7 linked regions of the Homo sapiens genome follow. The protein of the gene in region 1 interacts with the protein of each later gene in a pairwise test. Each region holds a gene or a part of one and is shown in the gene's direction. Other genes may lie near its edges. The genes, in order: OPRM1, ADD3, SLC9A9, DOK5, GRM1, SERP2 and SCGB1D1.

Region 1 (4,326 bases):
CACTAAGTTTAATGTTTATCTGACTGAAATAATTATCTGTGACAGCAGTCTTCAAACTTGTTTTTAGATGTAGACACTTATTTCAAGAACTTGGGACCCAATATATAAAACAGATCACAGAACAACTGTCCAGATGTAACCACATGTTGAGACCAAGAGCACTGCTCACCTTGCACCCCCATGCCACCCACCAGTGCTGTCCCCAAGGGACCACCATAGAATTTCTAGGGCTCCACCAGGCAAAATTTGAAAGCAATGGCTTTCACGTTGTTTCATATCCTTCTCGTGCCCACCTCATGTCCTTCACCTCGCCTTCTACCTCAGCCGTTGATATGGCAGTCAGTTTCCAGACATAACTGAGTAACACTTCACCTTGGCTGCATCTAAATCACTTACTTTCTGCCCTAGGGCTTCTCTACTGGAGTAATTGCCCTCCATAGGAATCAGCCTGGCACTCACAAAGGCACTATTTGGAAGTTCAGGAAAGTTCCCTTGACCAGGAAATGGAAGCCTGTGGAAAAATGCTGCCCTTGCTCCCCTCTCTCCTGAGGTGTACAATTCTGAGGTGCCAACTACAAGGCACATCAGAAGGCCCCGCCCACATTGTGACCGTCTCAAAAACATGCCTCGTTTTCCTCTTCCCTGGTTTACTCTTCTAGTTTCCCACTCCTTGCCAAGCAACCACTTTTCAAAATGGTTCACCTTCACACAAGGTCGTATCTCACACTCTGCTGAATATCCTTCCTGTTATTTTATAATTGGTGACTATACGTTAGCACAGTAAAATCTGTTTAATAAATAGAGCTCTTACAGACCTATCAATAAAGGTTTTCTCTTAACTATCAAAAACTCGTAAGAAAAATTCTGATAGGCAGCACCAGTTAGAACTACCAAGAGAGTTCAGAAGCTAAGCTTTTCCTTCCATTTTTGTTCCTGCCTTGGGATTTAGGAAAGGCTTTTTTGGGTAGGTTTGGCTGAATGGAGAGAGAGTGGGCACCAGTCATGTCCAGTGTTCAGTTTACTTCTTCTTGAGCTCAGGATAATAGGAGCAGAATTGTGTGTGCCATGTAAAGGAAATAAAGCCTCCTGTGCCTTCTGGCAAATTATCTGAGGGTATAAGAAAACAAACAAACAAAAAATCCTGCCACTCCCTTTTCCATTAATTTCATGTTATATAGTAACGTTAAGAGTATCTTGTGATTAATTGAGCTCAAGAAAATTTCAGTCTTCAAAAGTGAGCTGAAGCATCAAATGCAGGAAACGTCATATACAACAAGCATCATATACTGAGCTTACCAAGCAACTCCTTTCTTTACCCATCCTTTCTTGCCTCAGGTAACTTTTTTTCTTTCCCCATCAATTTCTCAGATACAAATTTAGAAAGGAAGAACAGCAAGGAAGAGAAACCTTGCCCTGGCTCAGGGCCCCAAGTGTCAGTTGTGGCTCGACTTCAAGGCACTCTGCGCCTCACTCTCCTTATCTGTAAAAAGGTGCGAATTGGACTAAAAAAATCTTAAACGCTTTCTAGTACTAAAATGTCCTATGGCAACTTCAATGACTATTAAGAGCATGTTTTTCCCAGCAATACAATCTGGAGGAAAAGAGGAATCATCCACAAAACTAAACAATCGTGGTTGCCATTCCATCACAGCCCTTTGGATTCTATATAAGCTCAAATAGGTTCTGTCAAAGGGAGAAAGAGTGAGTGTGCTCTGAACTGCCAGGTGTGGTGTTTATGATTAGGACAATAAGGGAAACAGAAAGTTACAGTCAAGCCTTTATTCATATGCTTCGAGAGTACAGGCAAGTGGTTAAGTGGGAAAAGGTGCAACCCCATCATGTTTCATTCCCCCCACCCCCACCCCACAGAAGCCACCAGGTGAGCATCACATGTTTGAGCAGAAATGCAGGAAGGAGAGGGAAAAGTCATCTTCTTACTGCACTGGGAGGCCCAAGCAAAAGGTCCTGCTGTTTTGTGTACCTGAGGGCCTGGGTGCAAGATGGGGAAAGACAAGGAATGAAAAACAGTGAGTCAGAGTATGTGCTGCCTCCTTAAGGGTTAGGAACGCATAACCTAAAAGCGTGACTGGCAAAGGTGGAGCGTGGGCAAAATTCTCTCTCTCTCTCTCTCTCTCTCTCTCTGTCTCTCATTCTCTGTTTAATTTTTAGGAGATGGTTTTAATATTTGCCTTTAGGTATTAGTCCTATCCTGGATGTTGTATTCCAAATCTGATGCAAAGAGGTTCCACCAAATCTAATCAAGTGAACTTTCGTAAACCAATGGATAGGGCTTTCCCATAAGATGAAGTGTGTGATGGGTTTAAATGAGAGAGAGATCATTCTGTTCTGGATATGTGTCTGTCCAGGCAAAAATGTTGTTAAGTACAATTTTTGTTTGTTTGTTTTTTGTTTGTTTTAAATAATATGTTAGCTTATGCACTGTATGTAAGTAGGTGTCTTCGTGTGTTCAGGCTGCTATAACAAAGTACCATAGCCTGGGTGGCTTACAAACTACAGAAATTTACTCTTACAGTGCTGGAGGCTTGAGGAGTTCATGATGAAAGCACCAGCAGATTCTGCATTTGCTGAGGACCTTCTTGCAGAGACAACTAACTTCTCCCCATTTCTCCACAAGGCAAAGAGGCAAGGAAGCTCTCTAGGGCCTCTTTCATAAGGGCATTAATAGTGTTCATAATGGCTCTGCTCTCATGACCTAATCACCTCCCAAAGGCCCCACCTCCAAATACCATCACACTGGGGAATAGGTTTTCAACATGTGAATTTGAGGGGAACACATTCAGTTTACAGTAGGTGTCCTAAGTGATTCAAATATTAACCACTCATATTCACTGAAAACCATTAGTGTGATTTAAATTAACGTTTACGTAAATTAGGCCAACCTGATTCCTTCACTATCTTCCAATATGCTTCATGTTTATCTCTTCTATACTGTTTCCTTTATTTTTCTTTCTCTCTGTTTTCCTGTAACGTATCTCTCATTCTTTTCCTATCAAAATGTTTCTTGTTCTTCAAGTATCAACTTAAATCCATCCTTTCTTACAGCCTCTCCAAAGTACTCCTACAACCAATTTCCCTGCAATATAACCCAAAATACATGCTACCATTGTTAAAAAAAAATTATGCATTTTCTCATGGCCTTATAAAATGTCACTTGATAAAACTTAAAGACTTGAACTATATCTATCTCTTTGTGTTTAGGTGAGAAATCCAACATTCAAAGTTGACCAACAGAACTGAATATCTTCAAAATACTGTACAATTCTAAGCTATTAGCAATTCAGATGTACCTCAAATTATTCAAGTATAAAATCTAATTTAAATAATTTTCTCAATTCACTTTGTTCATGCATATTTAGCTTTTATCACTTGAGTCATGAAAAGTGATCTGTACCATAGATACATATTAGCAAATCATAAATTCAAATACAAACACATACATGTCTATATATGCATATATTCCTGAGTTTACAAACTTTAAAAAGGGAATATATGGTTACTCTTATAATAAAAACTCAGAAAGTAAAATTTGAAGAAGTAAAAACATAAAAAGTTAATATAGTCAATTCCCATTATTCATGATAGTTATGGTCCATAAAGTCATTATGACTACAGAATTCGTGAGTACTGAAGCTTTGCTTCTAGGGGATATATAGGGCAGGTTCCTGTGAGCCTCTGATTATAAAATTTTCATCAGCTAATGCATTCGTAACCTTGTTTTATGTGTGTTTCTGTTTAAAGACGCTTTATTTAATATATAGCTGATTCACTAACGTTGAACTCATGGTTAACAGCACTATAAATCATGCCTGAACAAAGCTTCTGTAACACAAGTACTTTCCTCATAAGCCACATCACAGTCTTCTTGGCTTAGGGACACTAAGCAGAACTTCCACACTATGTTTGAGACCATTTTAAACAGTGAAGTCACCACCACCACCAACAACAACAACAAAAAAACACAGAAATGTGAAAAATGTGGCAATAAATAGATTGTGAAAAGGACACGTGTTTATAGTACAAGCTGAAAGAAGACAGCAGAGCATTGCCTTGTTTGACCTTACCTGGGAACCTGCACAGAGAGCAACTCAAATTTTTTGCTGCTCTATACATGTCCACACAGGTCCTCAAATGACTGCAAAAGCCAAGTATTATTTTGCGGGTAAATATTAATAGATTTTAGTGAAGAGGCCAATTTTCAAATACAGAATCCTCAAATAATGAGAATCAAATATATATAAAATGTTCCTCAAGGAAATATTTTTGAAACACTAGTAAAGAAGAAAATCAGGAAGCTATGTTCCAAAT
Region 2 (4,326 bases), on another chromosome or scaffold:
TTACTTAGTCCTTCCAACAACCCAGTGGCTAAACAGAGGCATGGAGAGGTTAAGTATCTTCCCAAGGTGACACAGGTTGGTTCTGAAGCCAGAGTCTGGCCCAAGAGTGAGCCCATGTAACCACTGCCCCTTGTTGCTATTGAGCTCATGGTAATTACTGCAAACCAGTGAGAGGTCTTCATAGTATTCCCACGACTATCAGGTGCACATGTCTTGTTTAACCACATCCTCTGGTATTAATACCACCAAGTTATGCTTAAATCTAAGGAGTGGTGGTTAATCCGCATTAAATACAGTCACCTTTTGACATTGAAAGGGTATTCTCTTTTGATACACAACATATGTTTAGGGTGCTAGAGTTTGTGCTAGAGTGTGCTATCTTTCTAATTACTAAAGATACTAAAGTCTTTTTTTTTTTTTTTGAAGCTTACCAGATATGTAGGGCCCCAGGTGGCCCAGAGGGCACTAATTCCCATTGGAGATTCCAGTTCTGCAGTAAATCAGTAAACCTTATCACCTTTCTGATTACCAACATCATATCAACCTGAGATAAATTTTAACTTAAGTTTGTTCTAAATACCACCTGAGTTGCTTCCTAAAATGAACCCTAAATGCAAAGATGTAACTTGTGGCTTATACTTTGTCATTCACATTCCTCAAGGAACTGTGTGTTGCTGCTTCACCATTGTAGTTGATATGTCAAACAAATTATAAACTAAATTAGGAGCTGTTTTAAGTAATGTTTAGAATTATTGTAGATAGATGAAATGTCATTTGACAACTTAGTGCAATGTAATGTTAGGAAAAAATGTTTAAAAACAAGCATGCGTTGAATTGAGAAAGTGCAAGCTTTATTGAAGACACAGGTTACTAATCTGTTTCTCACACTAAACACTGTTTTTGTTATAATTAGTGCTTTTCAGATTCCTTTGAAAATATTAAATATGTAGAGTTTGAATTTTTAAAAAAACTTTAAATATCTAATCGAGTGCTATTCTTCCTTTTAAACGTAGACCTATTTGAAGTTATTTAAACCCAATTTAAAATTAATTGGACAGTCCTAGACTGTCATGTCATTGAGATTCAAAATAAGTGCCTTAATACTTTATGTCTTCTTTGTTAATACTCTATGGTTTGAACTCCGGGTCCATGCCAGAGTGTTTATAGGTGAGATTGTTATGAGGTCTTTCAGGTTCTGCCAGAGATTCAGTTCTCTTGGCCAAATGCCAAGACAGTCTCAAATTTTTACTGTAATTTTTTACTGTAATGGGTTGTATATATCAAGAATCCTCTAAAACATACAGGTTAGAAGTCTTTCATTGGCTGTTGCTTGAACGAAAAAGTGTGTTATCCCTTAGATGAATATGATTATTTTTTATTCTTGCAGTAGCTAATTATGGATGTGTGTGTCTATGTATACGTATGTCAAACCATGCTACTTGAGGGATTCTCTTCCTTTTAGGTAAAGTTAAAAATTATTCACCTGGTGTATTAATGTAATATTTATTGAGTACCAACAGTATGCATAGAGTAATACCTTTATGTGGGAAAAAAGTGTTGGAGAAAAAAGGTTTGTGGATCTTTTATTTATTTCATGTGTATTTTAATGTTGCTGAATATCTGGACCAGTCTCAAAGTTCAAAATTGAATTGCCAGTTGAAAACATGTTAAATGTTAAGAAAGTACTGTTTAACTTAAAGTCTTAGATGGTAGCACAGATAATGAGAATCAGAGCCCCTTGTTTCCTTAAACTGTTTTTGGTTGAGTATGTTTGAAAAGCTGCGTTAACAATTCCTTTCAGGCTTCTAGGACATTACTTAACTGCATTGAAGGAATACATTTAGAGTATCCTAGAAACCTTAAAGAATGAATGTGGCTTTCAGAGTTGTCTAGCATAATCCAAATAGTAGTAGCATGATCACCAAAAGGTATAAAATGGATGAAACCTCTCTTTGATTTTAAAAGGCTTACTGTTCTTGTAAGTTTGTTTCTTGAAGATAATATTGCTTAGTTTTAACTCCACTAAAAGCTGAACCGTTATTGTACAAGATGTATAGGCCTTGGCATATGTTTATATCTTTTTTTTTTTTCTTCTTTTGTATTTTTGAGACAGCTCTCACTATGTTGCCCAGGCTGGTCTCGAACTCCTGGGCTCAAGCCATCCTCCCACCTCAGCCTCCCAGGTAGCTGGGACTACAGGCATGAGCCACAGGCCTGGTTTATATCTTTAAGGTAAGGTTAGATCTAAATTGAGCCTTTACTTGAAGTCAGACTGATCTGCATCAGCACCATATGTTATGTTTACTTTTTTTTTTCTTTCAATGAAAATGGGCCTGAGGAGATTGGTTTGTATACGGTACATAAACTGGCATTTAAGATGACTACCTCTTCAAACAAGGCTACGGTTTTTTTGGATTTTTAGGTTTTTGTTTTGTTTTGTTTTGAGATGGAGTCTCTCTCTGTCATCCAGGCAGGAGGGCAGTGGTGTGACCTCGGCACACTGCAACCTCTGCCTTCTGGGTTCAAGCGATTCTTCTGCCTCAGCCTCCTGAATAGCTGGGATTACAGGCGCCTGCCACCACTACCGGCTCATTTTTGTATTTTTAGTAGAGATGGGGTTTTGCCATGTTGGCCAGGCTGGTCTTGAACTCCTGACCTCAAGTGTTCCTCCCCGCTCGGCTACCCAAAGTGCTGGGGTTACAGGCGTGAGCCACTGCACTCGGCCAAGGCTAAGGTTTTAATCTAGGGTTATGAAACTCAATTTTTTCTGCAGTGGGCATATGCAATTTCCATAGGATAAACATTTCCCTCAACCAGCTAGGAGGTAAAAACACTTCTGAGAAATTTAAGGACAGTAACATAATGTCTTTAAAACCAGTGTCTCAAGAAGTATACTATATTAGTGAAACAATAAAATAACAGTGATCACAGATACGTTAAGGCAAGCAGTGGATTAAGCAGGATAACCTAACTCCAAGTAATATACACGAAATTATTTTTTTAAGCTTCCATACCTCTTTAAATTTATTCTTGTGATTTCTTACTTTCCCCTCCCTCACCAAAGGAAGTGCTCACCTTTTCAGATGGAATGAAAGAGGAGAGTGCTGATGTGAGTGACTCAGCCTGTTTAACTCTGCCTCTGTGGTGGTTTGTTGGTTACCTACTAGAGGAGGTGGAACTCAAACAATGTAAAAGCAATCAGGTTGGAGAAGTGCTGAGTTTTTAGTGTCATGGGAACTCGGTGTATGTCTTTGTCACCATTAGCAGTGTTTCTGTGCAGTTCTTCCACAATGGCTCAGCTCATCCTGAGCAAGGACAGCATTTCTGTTTTCCTTTTCCATTCAATATTCTCATCCTATCATCTTTTGATTTGCTAGAATGACTAAATGCTAGAGCAGAAAGTTGGGTTTACTCATCCTCCTGAAGAAGATAGTTAGGCTTACTTGGTATATCTAAGGAAGTAAATTTGGAAGTCAAGGCCTCCCCAGGGACTTCTAAGAACACTCCACTTTTACGCCCTAGGAAGTTAGAGTGAGCAACTGTTAGCTGCATCGTGACTTCTGTTCTCATTTGTCTTAATACATGACAAAAAAATTCTAGAAGGTCAGCCTTTTAATATCTAAGGAGGTGGTTGGAAAATGGCAATGGTCAGAGCTCAAATGGAGTTGTGATTGGGCATAAGTGCCTTGGATGAGTGGAATGCTTCATTGCCTGAGCTGCACAAATGGGAGGTAGAAAGGGATTTGCAATGAAGTTGATGCATTGTTCGTATTCCTTATTTCCACAGCCAACTTTTTAAAGGTGAAAACAGTGTACCTCTTACCTTGCCTTTCTTTTACAGTTTTTTTATTTTTATTTTTTTTGAGACAGAGTTTTTTACTCTTGTTGCCCAGGCTGGAGTGCAATGGCGCAATTCTCAGCTCACCGCAACATCTACCTCCTGGGCTCAAGGGATTCTCCTGCCTCAGCCTTCCTGAGTATCTGGGATTACAGGCATACGCCACCACGCCCGGCTAATTTTGTATTTTTAGTAGAGATGGGGTTTCTCCATGTTGGTCAGGCTGGTCTCGAACTCCCAACCTCAGGTGATCCACCCGCCTCGGCCTCCCAAAGTGCTGGGATTACAGGTGTGAGCCACCGCGTCCAGCCTTCTTTTACAGTTTTTATTGTCAGAGTTGAGTTCACTTTCCTAAGGGAAGGTAGAATTTTTTTTTTGAGACGGAGTCTCGCACTGTTGCCAGGCTGGAGTGCAGTGGCGTGATCTCGGCTCAATGCAACCTCCGACTCCCTGGTTCAAGTGATTCTGCTGCCTCAGCTTCCCGAGTA
Region 3 (4,326 bases), on another chromosome or scaffold:
GGATGTCAAAGAATTTTAGAGGTTATCTTCTCTATCCCCTTTATTTTAGAGAGGCAGAAGCTGAATCCCAGAGAAGTGAAGGGACTTTCCAAAACTGAATAGCCACTCATGACTGGTCCATGTGCTTTCACTCATCTGCATGTCTTACTAAGGTTCACGTTCACCTGAAAGAACTCTCCCTGTGTTTTCTGAAAGTACTCCATATGGGTGGCATTCATGACTTGTCACATTTCTTCTTCAGGGATGTCCTAAATGTTATATCTTAAATGCTTATTAGGAACTTTCTATCAGTAATGTAATAAAATAGTCTGAAACTACACCAGAGGAACATGATGGGATACTGTAGTAAACACTTTTTAATGATAGGGGAAAGGAGATGCCAAGTGAATTAATTGTCCAACAGCTATAAATGAACTTGGAATCATAGATGGGGAAGGAGCCTTAAAGATCATAAATCCAGCATTCTCATTTTGCAGACAAACAAATGAAGACTTAGAGAGATAAAAGTCGTGTAATTAGTTAGCTGTTGAGGTGGGATTCAACCTCCATCTCTTTAATAAGAGATGCTAAGATATTTAAAAATAAGTAAATTATTGCAATAATTTTCCTGGAGAAAGGATGTGTCTGTGGGATCTAGATGCATCCTCATATGGTTAAGCTTTCAGGATTAGCCAGATTCTCTTTTCCAGGAGGTCTAAAAGAGTGAATTTTCAGCATCCCACATTGTACTATCCCCCTTTCCATTAAAGGATTAAACTCTTAGCTTTTGCAAGAGCAGGGGGGCATGGTGATAACTAATGGGGAAGAAAAGAAACAAAACTATGTTTAAAACTTAAGCTTTTTGAGCTATGATTGTGCCACTTCACTCCAGCCTTCACTCGAGCCTAGGTGACAGAGTGAGACTGTGTCAGAAAGAAAGAAAGAAAGAAAGAAAGAAAGAAAGAAAGAAAGAAAGAAAGAAAGAAAGAAAGAAAGAAAGAAAGAAAGAGAAAGAAAGTTAAACTTTTAAAATTTCTTGTTCTTAAGGAAGTGAACATTTGAGAGTAGACTGTAACAGTCATCTCCGTGCTACAGACACATATGCTTGTAATGAAATATATTTTAAGATTTAGTGGACCTGCACCTAATGCTTATCAATGAATTTGGCTAGCAACTCCCCTACTCCACCGAGTACTGTTCTTGCTCTCACTATTTGTATAATGTATTACTTGTCCTGTATCAAGAATGATAAATGTTTTTCCCCAGCATCAAATTTCCTATAATACTTCAGCCTATTCTGCCATCTGCTTTTCTGCCAGTATTCCTTTGACATGTGTCAAATGTTCTTTAGAAGACTCGATAGATGTTGAGTCTATTTTATCAATGTACCTGAGAGTCCAATTTAAAAATTCTAGAGAACAGGGGCTTAGAAAACAAGCAGTTTAAAAAATGCAGAGAAAAGTGATCAAGCAGAATGTTTAATGTTCTTTTATATTTCTTGTTAGAAATAATTTTCAAGTTGCTAATCTTAAAATATCATATGAACACTTGTAGAGACCAAGAAAAATTGTGTGGCATTTGGCTAGACTCTGTGTCAATCAGAGATTCATATGATACTCCAAATAGTATAAATAATCCATTATATAAAAAATAGGTTTTTCTTATTATTAAGGGTCATAGGAAGCTTATAAAAATTAGTGGCAGCTTTATAACCATATTTTTGCTTCACCAGGAACAGTAATGGGTAATCTATTATGATATTCGATGGTTCTCATTTCAAAATTGAAGGATTAGAATCCATAACTGGTTTAAAATATAAGCCATAATGATACTCATTTAAATTGGACTGGAAGCATAAATGACAATTAGCGGTTAAAGTATTGATTGACAGCAGCTGGTGCACTTAGTACCACTCACTTAGGGCCTGTATCCCCTGTTCAGTGCTCATAAAAGAAATTTGCTCCTTGCTCCCTGACAGCATTAAGAATTCCATTATATATCACTGGGGGCTGCCATACTTTACAGGACATTTATAATCCTGTGCATTTGAGGGCTGGGATCTGAGCTTAGGGACAGAGCAATTTAAACCTCTTAGAATTCTGCCTTTGACTTCCTGGCCTTCCCATAGAAGTTAGTCTGAATTCATGTAAAAATTGTGGCCACTGTTTAGTGGGCACATAACAAATTTCAAGGCACTAAGTTTACATTTTGAATTCATTAAACTATATCATATTAAAGCGTTTTCAGATTCTTTAAGAATGTGCTTAACAGTTAAGTAGGACAAATTTAATTCACTCAACACCAAGTTTTTCAAGATTTAAAGAAAATACAGTTACATAGTGAATCATCAAGGATTGAAAAATTATCTTTTCTGAAAAATCTTCTGCAGGCATTAATTTCTTCCTAGCACTCCCTGCAGGTTCCTCAGGATTAAATTGGGTTGTTGGACATGTTGGCTACACCCTCCTGATCCATTTTACCCTCCTCCAGGACAGCCCAGCCTCCCTGACTGCCAGGCCTATGGGAGATGCTTCCTACTACTTCACCCCCTTCCCGCTGGCTGAAGGTCCTTCCAAGGCTCTACTTATTCCACTGTGGCTTTTTTTATAGAGAAAATATTGATGTGCTCCCCTGGAGATTTAAGTTTCTTAATCTTGATGATTTTTTTTTCAGTAGCTAGATGCATTATTTTGGGCAAGTGATGTTACATCTGGCCTTATTTTTCTCATCTATAAAATGGGGAAGAAAGGAACAGATATCACATGTCTCCCTTCCAGCTGCAAAAGTCCTTCAAAATTCAGGCCAAGACTGAGTTCAACCATCAGGCATCTTTCAGCCACTCCAGCCCAAACCAGAAGCTTTCCTTCCAGAACATGGCAGCCTATAATGATATCCAGTCTGTTCTCTCAGACAAGATTTTAGTTAGTGTTATTTCAGCACTGTTAGTACTTCCTGCTTCTGCTCTGATTTTGCAAGGAGTGCTCAGTAAATTCTGTTGAATTCCTGTCAGAAAGGTGAGGAGAACAAGTTAATAGTGAGGACTGGCTATGTATTCCACAGTTTGCAGAAGCATTTTTTATGAAAACAAGAGTAGCTCTGGTTTAATTTTAAGGGATCTGCAGGAAAGGTAATCACGGTTAGGAGCCCAGCATACTAAACTTCTTCTCCCTTTTGGTGTAAAAAACTTGATTTTTAAGGAACTTCAGAGAGTTGTACAATGTTTTCCATGTGTTAATACATTTGCCAGAGACAGGGAAAATAATGGAAGAATGAAAGTCATACTGCACTCTGTATGTTTTTTTATGTTTTTGGGGGTTTTTGTTTGTTTGTTTGCTTTTTTGAGACGGAGTCTCGCTCTGTCACCCAGGCTAGAGTACAGTGGCACAATCTCGGCTCACTGCCACCTCCGCCTCCCAGGTTCACGCCATTCTCCTGCCTCAGCCTCCTGAGTAGTTGGGACTACAGGCGCCCACCACCACGCCTGGCTAACTTTTTTGTGTTTTTAGTAGAGATGGGGTTTCACTGTGTTAGCCAGGATGGTCTTGATCTCCTGACCTCGTGATCTGCCTGCCTCAGCCTCCCAAAGTGCTGGGATTACAGGCGTGAGCCACCGCGCCCGGCCTGCACTCTGTATGTTTTTAAAAGTTGATTTTAAGAAAATAGCCGGGCCAGGCATGATGGCTCACTCCTGTAATCCCAGCACTTTGGGAGGCCGAGGCAAGTGGATCACCTGAGGTCAGGAGTTCGAGAGCAGCCTGACCAACATGATGAAACTCTGTCTTTACTAAAAAATACAAAAATTAGCCAGGTATAGTGGCGGATGCCTGTAATCCGAGCTACTCGGGAGGCCGAGGCAGGAGAATTGCTTGAACTCAGGATGCGGAGGTTGCAGTGAGCCGAGATTGCACCACTGCACTCCAACCTAGGTGACGGGAAGACTGTATCAAAAAAGAAAAATAAAGAAAAGAGCCTCTATATTTTGGATAAGTAAACTAAATAAATGAATAAACTATATTCTGAATCTCAAAGAAGCTATAGATGAAACTTTACTGCAAACTACTGTGGTGCCTCGAAGGACTCCCCCCTCAGTGTTTGAAAGGCTAATGAATGTGCATATCAAGAAAATAGATTTATGATTCAAATTATTTATGTAGATATCATATACCATCTACATTGAATTAATGTTACATAGTTAATGAAGTGGGGATATGGAGAGCTGATGTTTGTTAAACATCTATTATGTCAAAAAGTTGATATACAAAAATAAAAATAGCTAACACAAATAGCATTCCTGATATAAACTATGCTATTATAAGCACTTTACATATATTAACGCATTTAATCCTC
Region 4 (4,326 bases), on another chromosome or scaffold:
TAGGACATCATTGGATGGTGTAGCCTTGAGACTGACTAGGTGTTAGGATGGGAGGTGTCCAGTGGGGCCTCTGTGGGTAACTGAGATTTAAACTGAGACCCATGTGGGAATGGGAGTGAGGTAAGGAGAGATAGAGAAGGCCCTGTGCCAGGAGAACCACAGTGTCTTCTGGGAACTGAACAAAGTCCACGGTGGCTGAGACATAGAGCACATGGGAAAGGTATAGAGAGGACAGTGGTGAGATAGCGTGGGCAAGACCACAGGGGGTCTTGGTGGTCATTCTAAGGATGCAGGCTTTTGTCCCACGTGCAATGGGAAGTCACTGAAGTGTTCTGTTTATGCACAGTAATATTTCAAGACTTATGTTTTGAAAAAAAAATCTGCTATGTGCAGCATGCATTAATGGGGATTAAAATGGAAGTGGAAAGATCAATAAGTAGTTGTGACAAGATGATAGTGGCTTGAATTGGGGTAGTGGCAAAAAATAAAAATAAACAAACACATCAACAGTTGTATCTGGTGAGTCCTGAGGCACTTGGTGTAGTTGGAGAATAAGATACATGGTGCTGAGTCACTGACGTGATCGGTTTGGGCACTTTTTGAGGAGAAGTGGTGTGACATTTCATGCTAAGAAATTTGCATTTATACTATGAAAAGGGCTGATGGAGATTAAGAAGCAGAGAAATGAAATAATCAGATTAGTGTTGTGCATGGAGGATATTTATTTCACTTCCCACCTACTGCTTGAGCTAAGCATTTATTGAATTTAGAGTAACAGACGAGAGAAACGGAACAACATCATTGCAGGCAAAGATTGATGGAAAGTGGATTCTTTTGTATAACAGCACAAAAGAGATATATGAAAGGGAGGTTAAACTTGTCAGTGTGAAAAGCTATTGATCTTGTAAATACTTACCCTGAAGCCACCTAAGGCTTCGCTCAGGCATGACCCAAATATTCCAAACCTCCAATGCAGCTGAGGATGCGGATGTAACTGGATGAGAGATGACCACTGTGGAAATATAATGAGCCAAGACACTTTGTGGGAAGGGAGGGGTTTACAAAAGTGTTAAAGGAGCCAAGGAATTATGGGAGAGAGGGAGGAGAGAGAGAACGTCTAGTGGGGATGGCTTTCCTCCCTGCTAGGAAGAAGGCGCCACTGGGTAGTGTTCTCAGAGCCTAAAACAGAGGCCCTGTAACCACTGAGGAGCTAGGAGTAAGTTAGAGACAGTGGGAAAATATTTGGAAAACCAAATTCATTATGTACTTTCTATGATTTGGACCTCAAGTCAGGGGTCGTTTCTGAGACTCTTGACGCTGTATCTCTGACTGGTAAAGAGTGAAATAATCTAGTTATGAATTGGACCACTCTTCCTTCCCTTCCCTTCCTTGGGTTGATGTATTTAAGACACTTACATGGGGAATACTCTGAAGGGATGGAATATTTGGAGGCTTTTGCAGCCAGCTGAGAAAGAAGGCTGTCCACAGAGACCGAAACAGACATAAGAACTATTGGTCAAGTGGAGTCTTTGGGAGGATTTGAAAAACTAAAGAAAAAAGAAAAACCAAAATGTTCTACCTCTGTGAAGTTTTAAGCTTGTTCCACTTAATACGTTTCAGAAAATTTAATAAGGAAAGATAATTTGTTAACCATCCTTGCGGTGTGTTACAGATAATACTAAACTCACTTAAATACATCTTAGCTTTCAGATGTAGATACTTTTTCAACAGGTTGTGCTCAGCTGTGCTGTGCCATACTGATTTCCGGGCCTCACCTTTGGTGTTGTATACTGGAGACATTCATTCAGGGAGTGTGTCAAACTTCTAATTGTTCATTTTCAGGTTACAGAACTCAATAATGTGAAGAACGTAGCTCGATTGCCAAAAAGCACCAAGAAACATGCCATAGGGATTTATTTCAATGACGATACCTCCAAGACTTTTGCTTGCGAATCAGGTTTGTCTCAGGCAGGGCTGGGGGGCTTTTGCTTTTAGATTCTGAATGGATGCTGGGCACACAGTTTAATCTTTTTGACATTTCCACAGATCTTGAGGCTGATGAGTGGTGCAAAGTACTCCAGATGGAGTGTGTAGGAACACGGATCAATGACATCAGCCTTGGAGAGCCTGACTTACTGGCCACTGGGGTTGAGAGAGAACAGAGTGGTATGTAAAGAAAATTCTCTCCTCTCTCTTTCAAAACTGCTTCTGTCTCCATATGATAAAACATAAGACATCTTCATTATGTAAAGTTTTTGGGGTATAAAAATGTATAAAGAAATAAGTAATCTTTTATCTAATCCACAACCTGTGTTAACATTTCAGTGTATTTTTTTCTTATTCTTTTTCCAATTCATAACATGAATGTATCTACATTAATAATATCAGTTAGAAATTTTGGGGAACCTGCTATGTGCCAGTTTGGTGGAAGATGCTTAACTCATCTCAGATTATTTATTGTACTTTTCATAGCAGCCCTATGGTGTAGGTATAATTACTTCCTACGTTTTGCAGATGAGGAAACTAAAATTTAGAGGACGTAAAGACTTTCCTTCAATTCTGTTAGCTCACTAGTGTTTGATTCTAGACGATACCGTTGGACCTATATTACAGTTTACAGATTTTAAAATGTCATGGGCATTTTTTGGTCATGCCTTTTTCACTTAAAATGTTATCAACAACTTTCCAATGTTTTCAATATAATTCAAACTTTATGACTATTTCACCAAATTTAAACCCATCTAAAATCTGTAATTAAAAAAATACATATTTTATTGAAACACTTGAGCCAACTCTGAGCTCAGCAGTCAATCTGGGAATCAATAATTTAAAATAATAATGACTAAAATATTCATGAACACTTCAGCAAAAATCAGTGTTGATTTACAGAACAAACCTGGATGTGAGGAATCATTCCTTTGTCTCCTAACAGCTGAGCCTGGGGACGGGGTAGATCAGATCACAGAGTTCTGCTGTAGGCTGACTTGATCTATGAGGGCATGTCACCATGGAAAGGTCTGTGGGTCATCTGGTTTGATTACGGACATGGCAGAGATGGAATTGTACTGACTTTTTCTGTAGGTGCACACTCCAATGTTAGTAAAAAAAATGCTGTCCCTCCCAATTGGAACTATGTCTTCATGACACATTTACAATCTGTGACTCTTTGGATGCACCATATCTGCCATAACCCATCTCCATGGAAATGTTATTGACCGAGACCTAGAAGCCCTGGGTAATTCAGAGGAGCCTCTTTGTAGATTGGAAAATTGAGCTACAGAGAGGTTAAGTCATTGACGGGGTTACACAACCAATCCCCAGGCTCCTCCTTCTCTGGTTCACTAAATCAGGACACCCCAGGCAGAGAGGATACCTAGGAGCCAAGCATAAAGAAAACCTGGCAGGTTTTGATTATGATTCATTTTTTCACCTAGAGTGCTCAGATCAGCACTTTTCACAAATTTGTATTTGGGGAAGCAGTATCCTGACAGCACCACAATCTGAATTTAAAAATTGGCGGTGCGTAGGAGATACCTTTCCCACAGCAGCTTTCTGTGCCTCAGTTTCCTCTTCTGTTAAATGGAAATAATAGCTCTGGTCTACAAGTATCAGGGATTATTATAAATTCAACTGTGTCCTCTCAGGCCCTTTCCAATGTTAATTAGTATGACTTCAAATGATTGTAATTAAAATGGTCACTCCACCATTATTGCTATTACTCTTTTTAAATTTTTATTATTATTTTTTCCCTATCTCTCCCCTATTGTTATTCTTGAGTGAGGTAGGACTCAGAGAACTTCTAAGCAAATAGATTGATAATGATCTCTCTTACTTTTTACTTAATATAGACAGTCTTTCTTACTTGGAACTTTCAAGGGGGGGGAATATGCTCAATTAGAATACATTTTTAAATATGATTACTAGAAATCAACAAATATTTGTTTATTGAGAATATGAAATAATTAAAAATTTTTGAATAGTAGATCGCGGAACACATTTCATGAACACTATCTCAGCATTACTATTTACTAAATTCAACTAAAATCTATGAAAATTCAAATGACTATCTTATCATAAAACAATGTATTTAGAATACCACTAATATAAAATTGTTAATGCCACATTGTCGTATGTAGGCAATCTACCATAATGATGCATAGGTGGAAATATGTTTGCTATAGTAATATTTTTGTTCATTTTTCACTGAAAGACTTTGACTCAAAAACTTCTTAATGAATTTTCCAGAAATATAACAGAAATATGGTGACTGTATCTGCAGGGATGAAAATTAGGTTAATCAGCCAAGCAGTTTATGTAGAATAATTT
Region 5 (4,326 bases), 7.6 Mb from region 1:
AATTCAACTTCTATAGATCTGACTTGTGTTCTAGAAAGTTTAAAATGTTATACTATTTTCTGGTAAAATCTCTGATGACAGAGTATTTCATTTAGAGAGTCAGGTAAAGTTGCATAGAAAAAGAATGAAATGAAAAGAAGGTAGCATTCAGAAGGTTACCAAAGCCTTGACAAAAATCATCTTTGAATTGGAAAATTTGTTTGCAGGATGACAGCTAAAGAAACTGACAATTCACTGTGGTATTTTATCTCCTAATTTGTCTAGAGCTCCTTGTAAATATTTTAATTTATTGATTTCATCATAAATTAGTTCCCATATGGCCAATGTTATTTTAAATATCTATTTTCCTACCTATCCATCATCTATCTATCTATCTATCTATCTATCTATCTATCGTCTATATATATATATTTATCATCTATGTATCATCTGTCTTGCCTGCATTGGGAAAACAAAAATAAAATTAGGATTAGTATGTGACTTTATATAGGAAGAATAAGTTCTTCCAGAAAAAGGTTTGTATTTAGACAGAGACAAATCTCTGATACACAAGGAAGAGAGGCCACTAAGTTCTGTCAAAAGTGTGTGCTTGCCAATGGTGTCTTAGATTCCCAAAGCAAACGGAGTGTAGGAAGGCAACACACAATCACTAAAATAAAGTGATCTTTCATAAGTTGACAACACGGGAAGTATTCTTGTAAAGGTTTTCTAAGAAACCTAAGGCTGAGTGACCTACCACTTTTGGCAAATTGGTTATCAATTTAAAGGAGCTCCAAACATTAGCACTCAGGGCCAGCTTGGATTGGACACTTCTTAGGCTTACATGTTCCTCTAATGTTTATGAACTATCCCTTATATTGTCAACAGAAAAAGGTGATTCAAAACAAAACAAACACACAAACAAAACAGAAAAATATGGTTCAAAACGAAACAAACACACAAACAAAAAAGACCCATAAAATAAGACTTTGTGTATGTATGTAAATAACAGCAAAAGCAAAGAAACAGCAAGGGAATAAACAGATATGGAAAAAAATATTTATCAAATTGTGTATCTCTAAAGTGAACTATTTATTGACATAATAAAAAGCTTATGTCTAATTACCAAATGGTGCATTTCAAAACCAAAGGTTATATGACTTAATATATAAAGATACAGGTGAAATAACCTTACACAAAGACCTAAGTTTAAGTGCCTTCTATATAAAGACCTACATGATTACAAATCCTAGGACAACTACATAAATTCAGCAACAAGAGCTCAGTAAAATTAGCCAGAGTGAGAAAATTATTGAGAATGACTCTCATGCTAGTACATGGGAAGGACAGAATGCGGGCACGAGGGGGTCCAGTGAGTGACCCTGTTGATCAGAGCATCTCCTGGAATGTTATCAAATAAGGAGTCTTCAAAATTATCTTGGTGAAGCCTCTAGAAATATGAAACATGGTGAGACTAAATACATAAAATTTTTTTTAAAAAGCACAAAAGCTGGCTGGGTGTGGTGGCTCATGCCTGTAGTCCCAGCACTTTGGGAGGCCGAGGCAGGCTGATCAGGAGATCGAGAACATCCTGGCTAACACAGTGAAACCCCGTCTCTAGTAAAAATACAAAAAATTAGCCGGGCATGGTGGCGGGTGCCTGTAGCCCCAGCTACTCGGGAGACTGAGGCAGGAGAATGGCGTGAATCCAGGAGGCGGAGCTTGCAGTGAGCTGAGATTGCGCCACTGCACTCCAGCCTGGGCAACAGAGTGAGACCCCGTCTCAAAAAAAAAAGAAAAAAAAAAAAAAAAAAAAAGCACAAAAGCTAAACAAATTGCTTACTATAGTAAGGGATAGTTATGCTAGGCAGATACATTTTCTCTGAGCAGAAGACTATTCATTTTATATGGAGTTTTTAGAAAGTGTGGAGTTTAGGGATTGAAAACCTTGCAGCTTCTGAGAGCTGGTTGACATCACCTGTAGCAATACGATTACTCACATGAGACTGTTGATTAGTTGGCACTCATTTATTGAAGTGATTCTGATCCTGCCTGAGTGATTATCAGAAGTAAGGGCTGACAGTGCTTGCTTGGCATCCAAACACATGTTCACTGAGGCAAGTTGTTGATTGACTGACAGGTTTAGCACTGGTTCTGGTGGTTCCTTGTTGCCATGGCTACAGAACAATGAGTCTTTTCCTAAATTTATGGAAATGACTTTATTCTCACAATTTGGGAAATATTGGCCCAGACCAAATATTTTGTGATTACAAAATTCTGTGAAGGGGTTGTCCCAGAGCCTGACAAATTTTTCTCTCACTCTGAAATACAAAATACATTTTATTCTCCATCTAGAAGGAAAAGATAAGCCAGGAATTTAGGAACAAATTCTAGTCTTTCCTTTCAAGAGATGGGTTAGGGGAGATTTCATTCTTCCTGGATATGTCCACTAGAGGTTACTAACTCAAAGGCCCTCAGGTTTCAGATACAGATCATTCATGATTCATGAGAAGAGTGAGATTTAAGGTATAATATAGAGTTATGCAGGAAACAGGAGAATGCAGATTCTTCTAAAGAAGTCCATGAAATTTACATTGAAAACACTCTGCTGGCCAAAAACGACTTGTCTATGAGCTGGACTTGCCTACAGACAATGGCTGCATCAAAAGAAAAGTTTTGTTAGTTTATTTCTTAATAATTTATTCTATCCCATTATCACCATTTAACCCTCACTGGAAATAAAGTTTTATTTGGGTGTTTTCTTTTTCTGAACATGTAGAACCGAGTCCCATTCACAGAATGACATCTATTTATAATGCTGATGTTGGAAGAAAAGATCATTTTTATAGGTTCAAGTATGTCACATTAGGCTTGTAATAAGATTAAGTTTGGGGACATAATTGTCCAGGTAAGACAATGATGTATCTTTATTTGTGTAATAGTGTGCATTTTTAAAAAAGCATTAAATGCTGTAAATCATGAAGGATGCAAAGATGACTGTGTCTCTGGTAATTAATAGGCAAGTTGTTATTCCTAGCAGAAACCTTGGATTCATGCTCAAATGATTTTTCTCATCACAGGCTGTGAGCCCATTCCTGTGCGCTATCTTGAGTGGAGCAACATCGAATCCATTATAGCCATCGCCTTTTCATGCCTGGGAATCCTTGTTACCTTGTTTGTCACCCTAATCTTTGTACTGTACCGGGACACACCAGTGGTCAAATCCTCCAGTCGGGAGCTCTGCTACATCATCCTAGCTGGCATCTTCCTTGGTTATGTGTGCCCATTCACTCTCATTGCCAAACCTACTACCACCTCCTGCTACCTCCAGCGCCTCTTGGTTGGCCTCTCCTCTGCGATGTGCTACTCTGCTTTAGTGACTAAAACCAATCGTATTGCACGCATCCTGGCTGGCAGCAAGAAGAAGATCTGCACCCGGAAGCCCAGGTTCATGAGTGCCTGGGCTCAGGTGATCATTGCCTCAATTCTGATTAGTGTGCAACTAACCCTGGTGGTAACCCTGATCATCATGGAACCCCCTATGCCCATTCTGTCCTACCCAAGTATCAAGGAAGTCTACCTTATCTGCAATACCAGCAACCTGGGTGTGGTGGCCCCTTTGGGCTACAATGGACTCCTCATCATGAGCTGTACCTACTATGCCTTCAAGACCCGCAACGTGCCCGCCAACTTCAACGAGGCCAAATATATCGCGTTCACCATGTACACCACCTGTATCATCTGGCTAGCTTTTGTGCCCATTTACTTTGGGAGCAACTACAAGATCATCACAACTTGCTTTGCAGTGAGTCTCAGTGTAACAGTGGCTCTGGGGTGCATGTTCACTCCCAAGATGTACATCATTATTGCCAAGCCTGAGAGGAATGTCCGCAGTGCCTTCACCACCTCTGATGTTGTCCGCATGCATGTTGGCGATGGCAAGCTGCCCTGCCGCTCCAACACTTTCCTCAACATCTTCCGAAGAAAGAAGGCAGGGGCAGGGAATGCCAAGTGAGTTATCTGACCTGTTTGTCTCTCTTTTCTCTTCCTTTCTCTGTCTCTTTCTCTCTCTCTCTCTCTCTCTCTTTCTCTGTCTCTCATATCTTCCTCTAGTTTTCTGAGTTGTCTCTTCCATTTCCCCCATGTCTTTCTCTTCCTTTCTTAATCTTTTCTCCCTTTCTTAAATCTCACATTCTGTTGCAGTAAGAATGCAGAACTGAGGCTCCTCCCTGTTTTCATTTCTTTGAAAGAAAAGGAGCAGGAAACAATCTTTATTCTTGCCTAGAAGCGGAAGCTTCGGTTCTGCCAGTAACTTACCCTTTCGCATGGGACCTCCTTCTATGGAGC
Region 6 (4,326 bases), on another chromosome or scaffold:
GGACCATGGCTGTTGGCACTGTTTGTTTTTGTTGTCTGTGGCTCAGGTATGGGTGTTTCACTGAACTTATATCCCATGTTCTCCACTGGCCTTTGAAAAACACACGTTTTCTTCACAAAGCAAATAGATGAAAAACATACTGGTATGGGATTCAAGTTTATCACTGCCTTAAGCCTTAATCTTAATGGGTTTTGATTTAGTTTCTATTCCAAATATAGGTAGAGACACAATTAATACACTATCAAATCCTAATCATAAAATGATTACACTGAGTAGTTAAAGTGGCTGTATACACTGTAGAGTTCAGTAAAGTCTTTTTGTGCAGACATAGCCTTAAAAGGGCATTAGAACAGAAGGTGAAACACCTGTGTGCCTGTGATAAATCCACATTCCGAGAAAGGGAGAGGCCTTATGCCTTATGAGAAAGTTCTGCAGAGCTCCTAGATACAACTTCCTAGATACAACTGAGCCTTTGACCCAAGCCTTAAGGTATGGGTCACCTGATACTGTAAGGTGGCAAGTTGAGAGCTTTACTTACACACATGCAGATACACACATACACACAAATGCAGGGAAGATGAGCAGAAGCATCGTGCCATTGTTTCTAGTTACATGCTGAACTAGCCTTGACATGGTTCCTGATCCCCATATGTTGGGTCTCAGAAATCCTTGTGAGTGGAGGTCACTTCTTCTAACTACACAGCATGCCTTGAGGGATTCCCACCCTCCAGCATCTCACTGTTACTGAGGGCAGGGAGGCAGAAGGTCCACATCTTCCTGCTCAGGCTTAGGCCTCCCAGCAAGACAGCCTCTGCCCCAATGACAAGAGAAGCCCATGACTAAAGATGAATCATGCATTCAAACCTAAAATCATGAAAATTAAAAAAAAAATTTAAGATGGATCAGTTCCTTTTATCTTCAAGAGACCACTCTTCCAAAGAAGCAAAAACTCTTAGGAGGAAGGAAGGATCCAAAGTACTTGGCATTATTGTTGCTTGTGGCTCAAATATTTTAAAGATGATTTGGCATTCCAAGATGAGAAAATCTTACACTCAAAGAAAGACAGTTCTACTCTATTCCCAAAGAAGTATCTTTAAGGACATCTTTTAAACAGCTGTTTACCCAATCCCTATTTGAATACTTCTTCAAAAAGCCTATTCCATGTCTGCTGGAATTCTATTAGAAATGTCTCTCCTGTTTTGAATTACACTATGCTGTCTTCTCAGTTGTTCAGATTTGAACTCCTAGGGTAACACAGAATGGACTCGTTCTCCTCTAAGCACCTTGAATCATCAGATATTTTAAAGATGACTGCCTGGTGGCTCCTTCTGCAAACTAAGCTTCCCTAAATCTCTCGACCTTGCCTCATAAGATGTGGTTTCTAGACTCCTCTTCTGGATCTGCTCAATGACTTTCTTAAAGGGTAGCATTTGGCAGCGCATGCCTGTAATCCCAGCTACTTGGGAGACTGAGGCAGGAGAATCACTTGAACCCAGAAGGCAGAGGTTGCCATGAGCCAGAGATCGCGCCATTGCACTCCAGCCTGGGCAACAAGAGTGAAACTCCGTCTCAAAAAAAAAAAAAAAAAAAAAAGCCAGGCGCAGTGGCTCACGCCTGTAATCCCAGCACTTTGGGAGGCCGAGGTGGGGAGGATCACAAGGTCTGGAGTTCGAGACCATCCTGGCCAACATGGTGAAACCCTGTCTCTACTAAAAATACAAAAAATGAGCTGGACATGGTGGCACGCGCCTGTAGTCCCAGCTACTCAGGAGGCTGAGGCAGGAGAATCACTTGAACTGCAGAGGTGGAGCTTGCAGTGAGCCGAGATCGTGCCACTGTACTCCTTCCTGGGCAACTGAGCGAGACTGCGTCTCAAAAAAAAAGTATAGCATTTGCAACTGCAGAAGGTGGTCTAGAAGCAGTGTGACCACCACAGAGGCAGTAGGATTGTCACTGCCCTTGATTTTGCTCACCACTCTGCCTCTATTAATGTGACCCAGGCTTGCAGTTACTTTTTAACAGTTGCAGCACATCCTTGACTCACGTCTAGCTGATGGCCAGCCAGATGCCACCCAGCTCTTCCTCAGATAAACTTCCTGCAACCCCGGAAACACATCTACATACCCCTTTATCCCAAGTCTCTCCTGTCTCCATCACATATTATTTTATTTTACTCATGACCCTCATCAGCAGTTGCAGTTATTTAGTTTACTTACTTAGGTTCATTTCCCTCCAGTAGGATATAAGCTCAGGGGAGACAGTGTTTATTTTTCATTAAATTTGTAGATCCTAGTTTAGTATTTAGCACATAGTTAGTGCTTAGGATGGATGGATGGATGGATGGATGGATGGATGGATGGATGGATGGATAAAGCCAGATATTCCTCATACTGTAGATATCTAGTTGACCTTTTTTGAGACCTAATATAAAACTTTATGACTTTTTTTTTTATTCTCAAAGAAGAACGATTACTTCTATTAAAATTTTAGGCTGGGCGCGGTGGCTCACGCCTGTAATCCCAGCATTTGGGAGGCCGAGGCGGGCGGATCATGAGGTCAGGAGATAAGACCATCCTGGCTAACACGATGAAGCCCCGTCTCTACTAAAAATACAAAAAAATTAGCCGGACCTGGTGGCAGGTGCCTGTAGTCCCAGCTACTTAGGAGGCTGAGGCAGGAGAATGGCGTGAACCAGGGAGGTGGAGCTTGCAGTGAGCCGAGATTGTGCCACTGCACTCCAGCCTGGGCGACAGAGCGAGACTCCGTCTCAAAAAAAAAAAAAAAAAAAAAAGAACAAAATAAAAACAAACAAAACTATGCCTTTATCATACCACAGGAAAATCAAGAAAATAAACCTGTACAAAAAAGTTAGCTATGTTTTCAGGCTGTATGACCAGTCTGTAGATTGTCAGACCTTGAACTTTAAGCCTCTGATCTACTTACCCTTTTTTCCCAGTGTTATGGTCCCTGAAAATATATTATTCTTCCAAGTCACTGATAAAAGTCTAGACTTGGAGAAACCCACAGAACACAATCAGAGACAACCTCTTTCAGGTTGACTTTGAGCCTCTAAGCAAAACTCATTCAAGCAATCATCATGTCTTGAGGGTCCCCTCTGTGCCTGGCACTGTGCCGGGCTTTGGAAATACAATCCTGTTTGGGTACTTGCAGGCATTGGGAGAGGCAGATAAGGAAGCTGTCAGTTGCAGCCCAGGGAAAGCGCACTGCGATAGTGACAGCAGAGTTTACAGGGTGCTTGGCTGGCATGGATAAGGAACTTCTAAATCATACTCAGCAGAAGAGAAAGTTTCCAAGGGGAGGTGCTGTTTGAGCGGAGTCTTGAAGAACAAACAGCCAGACAAAGGGTGTGAGGAAGGTGATTCTGCATGGGAACACTATGTGGCGGTGGCATGGTGGCTTCAGAGAATGTGCTGGGCTCAAGAATATAAGGTGCTCAGAATGGCCAAAGCCTACTCTCAGGCATCCCTGAGCCCCGTGACCATGCCACCTGTATTGTCAAGGGTCTAAGTAGATAAAGATATATATAGGCTTCAAGATACACAGTAACTGTGGCCTTCTCCAGTCTGCCCCCTTAGGCAGCCTATAAGGGAAAAAGCCAGTAGAGTCATTTGGCGTGGCTTATTTTTCTCAAACCCATGCCAACTCTCAAAACCCATCTCTTCCTTTTTGGAGGGTTTAAAAAACTATTATATGGCCTAAACTTTTGCCTGGCTTACCAGCCCATGCAGCAGGACCTGTATCTTTCCCTCTTGGGTAAATTGGGACATTTGCTAACAAGCATCTTTTAGAACTCTCCTGGTCTCCAGCAGTTTCCTAGGGATTGAGTATGTTAGCTCCACCTCTCTGGAGGTTTGCGTTTTTTTTGTTTTTTTTTTTTTGAGACAGAGTCTCGTTCTATTGACAGGCTGGAGTGCAGTGGCGCAATCTCGGCCCACGGCAACCTCCACCTCCCAGGTTCAAGCGATTCTCCTGCCTCAGCCTCCTGAGTAGCTGGAACTGCAAGCACGCACCACCATGCCCAGCTAATTTTTTTTTTTTTTTTTTAGTAGTGACGGGGTTTCACCATGTTGGCCAGAATGGTCTTGATCTCTTGACCTCATGATCCGCCCACCTTGGCCTCCCAAAGTGCTGGGATTACAGGCATGAGCCAATGCGCTCGGCCACCCAGGGCTCTTTCAATGATGCTGACTTAAAGCTTTCTAGTTATAAAGCCATTTTGCTTTTATGGAGAGGTTAGACATGAAATGAGAGTTGAGCCATCTTACTTTCTCTGTCTTCTATTAACATGCTATCGTGATCCCTAAG
Region 7 (4,887 bases), on another chromosome or scaffold:
CAGTCTCCTGAGTAGCTGGGACTATAGGCACATGCCACCACACCCAGCTAATTTTTTGTATTTTTAGTAGAGACGGGGTTTCACCATGTTGGCCAGACTGGTCTCAACCTCCTGACCTCAGGTGATCCACCCGCCTCGGCCTCCCAAAGTGCTGGGATTATAAGTGTGAGCCACTGCGCCTGGCCAGACCTGGTAAATTTTACACACACACACACACACACACACTCATTTGAACATCTATCAACCCAATGATGTAGGCACCATTTTTAACCTACTTTTACAAACGAGAAAACTGTGTTTACATAAACTAATTTTCAGAGGGTTCAATAGCCCATAGACATGGATCTGAACCCTCCTAGCCATGGGCTTTGCCACTGGACCTTCCACTCCTTAGGGTTGGAGGCAGAGGTGGCATCAGGGGCTTCCCCACCATTTTGGGTGATGGAAGTGAGAGGCATTGTCGCCCTCAGCTGGGACTCAGCCAGACCTGCCAAGGTGTCTCTGATGACACAGACCATAAGGTCCGCTTCCTTCATAAAGGTCTTTCTGGGTGGTTCTCAGTACTGCTGCCCATCAGACCCACCAGAGCAGTTTAAACAGAAGAGGACCTCGCCCTAGAACTACTGAATCAAAATCCCCAGAAAGGGAAGCAGCCTGCGGGGAGTCAGTATAGTTTAAGAGCCCCAAGTGATTTGATTGCAGAGCAGAGAATGGAAAGCTCTGGCCTGGGCTGTGACTGTTCTCAAATGTGTGTTCACTTAAGAGCCAAATTTCTGGTGATTTCCTACTCACCAAATGATGGCACTGCAGTGGAAGGGCAGAAGGGTGTCTATTGCTTTTGCTGGGGATGGCCTTCGCTTTCCATCAACAATGAGATGACCCAGGCAGCAGAGCTGGGTTAGAAGTGGAAAACTTGAGCCCAGAGGTTAGAGGGAAGTGACCACCCACCCTGTTCATCCATCTCTTCCTTTCCATTATCGTCCCTGCCTAGAAGCGAAGACCAGTATTTCTGATGCCTGTTTGCCTCCAGACACCCCAGCAGCTCCTTGGGTAAAAAAAGTTGGGCAATTTAATCATCCCATCAGCCCTATGAGGAGATATGGGTGGCTAGAGGTCACTGGAGGCTTGCTTTTAGTAGACAGAAAATTTGAACCTGTGCTATGTTGACAACTCCACCCATAAATAAAGACACAGATCTTGGAGTGAGACAGAGTAGAGGACAGGGGGAGTGGTTGTTTTCCCCAAGGAAATCCTCCAAAGGTGGGGTGTATGCAGCTATGTTTTAGGTACCTATGTGGTGAAGATGGTGGGGATGGAAGGGGCTGAGTGGGAGGATAGGTCTGGTTCAGACTTGATCTATGTGCAGCTGAAACACGTGTGGCTGATTGTCAGACATGCAGTGGAGGTCAAAGTGGGGTCTCTTCTGTGCCTGCTCTCCTATAACCAAACCACAGCCCCTAGCTTCCTGCACCCCCGGTTTCTGTCCTCCTGAAATGAGAACTCACATTTGCCCTTGCACTGACATAAAGAACAGAGAGATAATCCTCAAAAGCCCAAAAGCAAACTGAGGTTCCAGGGAACATTGCCAGAGGCACCTGGACACTCACCTGGAGCACAGAGCAGAGTTTCTGCAGGGCTGCCCTCCCGTGCTCCGCCCCACTCAGGATGCAGGGAGGTGTGGGGATGTGACACTGATGGATGGCAGCAGCCCTGGCTAGGAAGGGAGGGCTGGAAGCCAGGCCTCATCACCTGCCAGATGCCCATGTGGGCAGGACCAGCCAGGCTCCCTAGGTACAAATAGCCCTGGGCTCCACGGCTCCACAGGCTCCCGGGGCTGAGTCTAAATCACTCATCATTGGTTAAAGCCGAGCTCACAGCAGAATAAGCCACCATGAGGCTGTCGGTGTGTCTCCTGCTGCTCACGCTGGCCCTTTGCTGCTACCGGGGTGAGTACATCAGTCATGAGTCCAGCACCAGCCCTTGGGACACACCCTTCTCTGAGCACGAGGTCACCTATTAAGGTTAAGGTTGGGGTCTGGAACAAACCAAAATTCCAAACCTTATCCTGTGCTTGTTGAAGGAACTGCTCATAAAGCTCGGGCCTCATTTCATCAAATCCCCAGTACCTAGGAAGTTTTGCAGAAAATCAATGCAGGCGAACGTTAGGAATTCTGCCTGAGCTTCACTCTTGGATGGGATCTGTGTCAGATGATGTAATGTGAGGTCTGGGGTGACTCTGGGCTCAGCCACTTCTCAGCCCTTTCACCGTGGGCAAGATGCTCACCCTCCCCGCGCCTCCTCCTATCTCTGGTGCTTAGAGCTTCTTCCGGGAGTGGCAATGGGAATGGAGTGGGATTATTGTGCCAAGGGTCTAGCTGTGGATGTGAAGCCAATCACTGTACTGTCAGACATTCTCGTCCCCAGACCTTTAGGTGCCAATTGAGCTCACAGCTTCTTACATTGTAAATTCAGACTCATAAAATGTTACATCTCGAAGGATCCTTGGAGAACTCTCAGTCCAAGAAGAGATGGTGCTTTCTGATTCTCTCAATAAGAAGCCTGCAAATGAATTCTTAGAATAAGCAGCACTCAATATATCTTCTAGGGGTCCTACCGTAATGGTGGTAGAAATACTACAATGGTTAGCCTCAGAACTTCTATTTTTCTAAAATTAATTCTGGCTGATTTTTCCCCAGTTCATTTGGGTACTTTCCTTTCCCCTGTCAGGACCGATCCAGACTCTGATTTTTCTCTTTCCTCTTCTTTTCTGAACCTCTCCCTGTTTCCCTGTGACACCCCGATCCTACCCTCTCCAAATTCTCCCCACAGTTTGAAGTCGGGTAGTCAGGGGTCATGTTGAGCATGGTGGGGCGCTTTCTGGATGCATGGTGTTTGCAAAAGACTTAGGTGAATGGAGATTCCAGACCAAGCAAAATGATTACTCCAGGTCTTTCCAAAATTCCCAGTGGGAGCAGGAATGAGCCTCAGTTCCCTCCTCTCATCCTCTCCAAATATTCTAGATGCTGCTGCAGAATATGGGCCAAGTACAATTTCCTGTATAAGCTTCTAATGTGTGTTAAAACTGATTCACATTATTTTATTTTGTTTTAATTTGTTTACCTTTTAGCTCTGTCTGTATTGAATCACATAAGCCTAAATTCTACAACTTGTTCTCAAAACATCACCTTCAACATTTCAATAATTTTAACTTCTTCTGTTCCAGATTTACTCATTTCTCTAATTTCTGATAGGATTCTGACTCTACCATTCCACTTCAAAATTTGATTACTCAAAGCCTCCTCTTCACCAATGTCCAAGACTAATAAAGTGTCACTTAACTGGCATAGAAAAGTGATTATTTTCAAATCTAGAAAAGAGAACGTTGGCCATCCATCCAGAGAAGCTTTGGAAAGTAATGAGTGTGCTTTAAAAAAAAAACAAAGACTGAATGAGTGATCAGGAAGTTGGTTCTCCAGTTCTAGCTCTACCCTTTGCTGTGTGACCTCAAGGAAGTCACAACCTCCTGGGTCTGACATTGTCATTGGCATAGTTATTGAATAGAAGCCTAAAACCCTGGGGTTCCTGTCTGGTCTGACATCAGGGAGGCATGGGAGAAACACTGATTTCCTTACACAAATTATATTTTTATTCTTTTGCTCCAGCAAATGCAGTGGTCTGCCAAGCTCTTGGTTCTGAAATCACAGGCTTCTTATTAGCTGGAAAACCTGTGTTCAAGTTCCAACTTGCCAAATTTAAGGCACCTCTGGAAGCTGTTGCAGCCAAGATGGAAGTGAAGAAATGCGTGGATACGATGGCCTATGAGAAAAGAGTGCTAATTACAAAAACATTGGTAATTTCTGTCTCTTTCATGTGTCCAGGCTTCTGGTCAGCGGCACAGTGTGAAGTGAGGTCAGCTTGCTTGCTGCTCTGTGAGGGACACAGGTGGTGGGGCACCTGCCTTACTGGTCACCGCTTGAGAAGGTCACCTGGGACCACAGGGTGGGTGCTACCATTTCACCTGCAGAATTCAACTCAGCTGCACACAGCCTCCTGCATGTTCCTCCTTCTCAGGTCACCTACCTGGATGCCGTGTCCCCAGAGTGTGCTGAGGACATGGGGAGTGAGCCTGGGTCCAGGCAGGGGTGGTGAAGGGCCAAGCACAACTGTCTCTCCACCTGGGGACTTTCCTGAGGCCAAGTGGACCTCACACAGTCACTGTGGAATGTACTGGGGAGTGTGGGAGCCTTGAACAGGGAGAAGAAGGCAGGGAGGGACCTAGAGCAGGGGCTCCTGCAGATGCTGCGCTGGAGGGCTGGACTTCTCTGCAGCTTCTGCAGAACCAGGAAGGAGCCCCTCCCAGCTCCTCAGACTCCACGCTCCCCTCCTCACCCACGATGCTCTCCTGACCACGGCCAGTGGGCCAAGACCCTCGCTACTCTACCTCCTGCAGTGCCATGGAAGCGGGATGTTCTCACTCTGTCTTTCTCAAGAAATCAGAGGTTTTCCAGGGGCCTCTCAGCCTGGCTGCCTCTGGGTTGCTGTCCTGAGGTTTAGCTGCAAATGCTCATGGAAGCTGCAGGCTCAGGATTGAGGTGCTCAGGCCCTGAGGCAGAATTCCCACATGGGGAGGCTGGAGTCTCCTGGAAGCCAAGCTTCCCAGAGGCCCTCCCAGCCCTGACCAACCTCTCAGCACTGGGTCTTTCATTGCGGGGAACAGGAGACTCCAAGTCCTGGGACAGCCCAGACAATAACCTCTTGCTGCTCTGCTCTGTCCCCCCTCTATGAGGACCCTGGGCCTTATGCTTGTGTCCCCCCAGGGCTATTGGCCTGGCAAGGAAAGGCTGGTCTAGGTCTAGGCCCTGGTTTCCCACACACACTGGGTTCCTG

What was found.
Region 2: the proteins of OPRM1 (region 1) and ADD3 interact in a two-hybrid assay, tested with the Homo sapiens proteins (one large-scale study listed by BioGRID and IntAct).
Region 3: the proteins of OPRM1 (region 1) and SLC9A9 interact in a two-hybrid assay, tested with the Homo sapiens proteins (one large-scale study listed by BioGRID and IntAct).
Region 4: the proteins of OPRM1 (region 1) and DOK5 interact in a two-hybrid assay, tested with the Homo sapiens proteins (one study listed by BioGRID and IntAct).
Region 5: the proteins of OPRM1 (region 1) and GRM1 interact in a two-hybrid assay, tested with the Homo sapiens proteins (one large-scale study listed by BioGRID and IntAct).
Region 6: the proteins of OPRM1 (region 1) and SERP2 interact in binary tests that used the Homo sapiens proteins (3 or more experiments, as listed by UniProt).
Region 7: the proteins of OPRM1 (region 1) and SCGB1D1 interact in binary tests that used the Homo sapiens proteins (3 or more experiments, as listed by UniProt).

What each region holds. Positions count from the first base shown.
Region 1 is NC_000006.12:154,045,326-154,049,651, forward strand, and holds part of OPRM1 (mu-type opioid receptor), read left to right. Parts: intron 1-4,326. UniProt on the Homo sapiens protein: Receptor for endogenous opioids such as beta-endorphin and endomorphin. Receptor for natural and synthetic opioids including morphine, heroin, DAMGO, fentanyl, etorphine, buprenorphin and methadone.
Region 2 is NC_000010.11:110,010,678-110,015,003, forward strand, and holds part of ADD3 (gamma-adducin), read left to right. Parts: intron 1-4,326. UniProt on the Homo sapiens protein: Membrane-cytoskeleton-associated protein that promotes the assembly of the spectrin-actin network. Plays a role in actin filament capping. Binds to calmodulin.
Region 3 is NC_000003.12:143,841,374-143,845,699, reverse strand, and holds part of SLC9A9 (sodium/hydrogen exchanger 9), read left to right. Parts: intron 1-4,326. UniProt on the Homo sapiens protein: Endosomal Na(+), K(+)/H(+) antiporter. Mediates the electroneutral exchange of endosomal luminal H(+) for a cytosolic Na(+) or K(+).
Region 4 is NC_000020.11:54,586,641-54,590,966, forward strand, and holds part of DOK5 (docking protein 5), read left to right. Parts: intron 1-1,842; coding exon 1,843-1,957; intron 1,958-2,046; coding exon 2,047-2,166; intron 2,167-4,326.
Region 5 is NC_000006.12:146,395,710-146,400,035, forward strand, and holds part of GRM1 (metabotropic glutamate receptor 1 isoform alpha precursor), read left to right. Parts: intron 1-3,059; coding exon 3,060-3,990; intron 3,991-4,326. UniProt on the Homo sapiens protein: G-protein coupled receptor for glutamate. Ligand binding causes a conformation change that triggers signaling via guanine nucleotide-binding proteins (G proteins) and modulates the activity of down-stream effectors.
Region 6 is NC_000013.11:44,379,668-44,383,993, forward strand, and holds part of SERP2 (stress-associated endoplasmic reticulum protein 2), read left to right. Parts: coding exon 1-46; intron 47-4,326. UniProt on the Homo sapiens protein: Interacts with target proteins during their translocation into the lumen of the endoplasmic reticulum. Protects unfolded target proteins against degradation during ER stress. May facilitate glycosylation of target proteins after termination of ER stress.
Region 7 is NC_000011.10:62,188,394-62,193,280, forward strand, and holds the start of SCGB1D1 (secretoglobin family 1D member 1 precursor), read left to right. Parts: upstream 1-1,822; 5' UTR 1,823-1,891; coding exon 1,892-1,946; intron 1,947-3,662; coding exon 3,663-3,850; intron 3,851-4,887. UniProt on the Homo sapiens protein: May bind androgens and other steroids, may also bind estramustine, a chemotherapeutic agent used for prostate cancer. May be under transcriptional regulation of steroid hormones.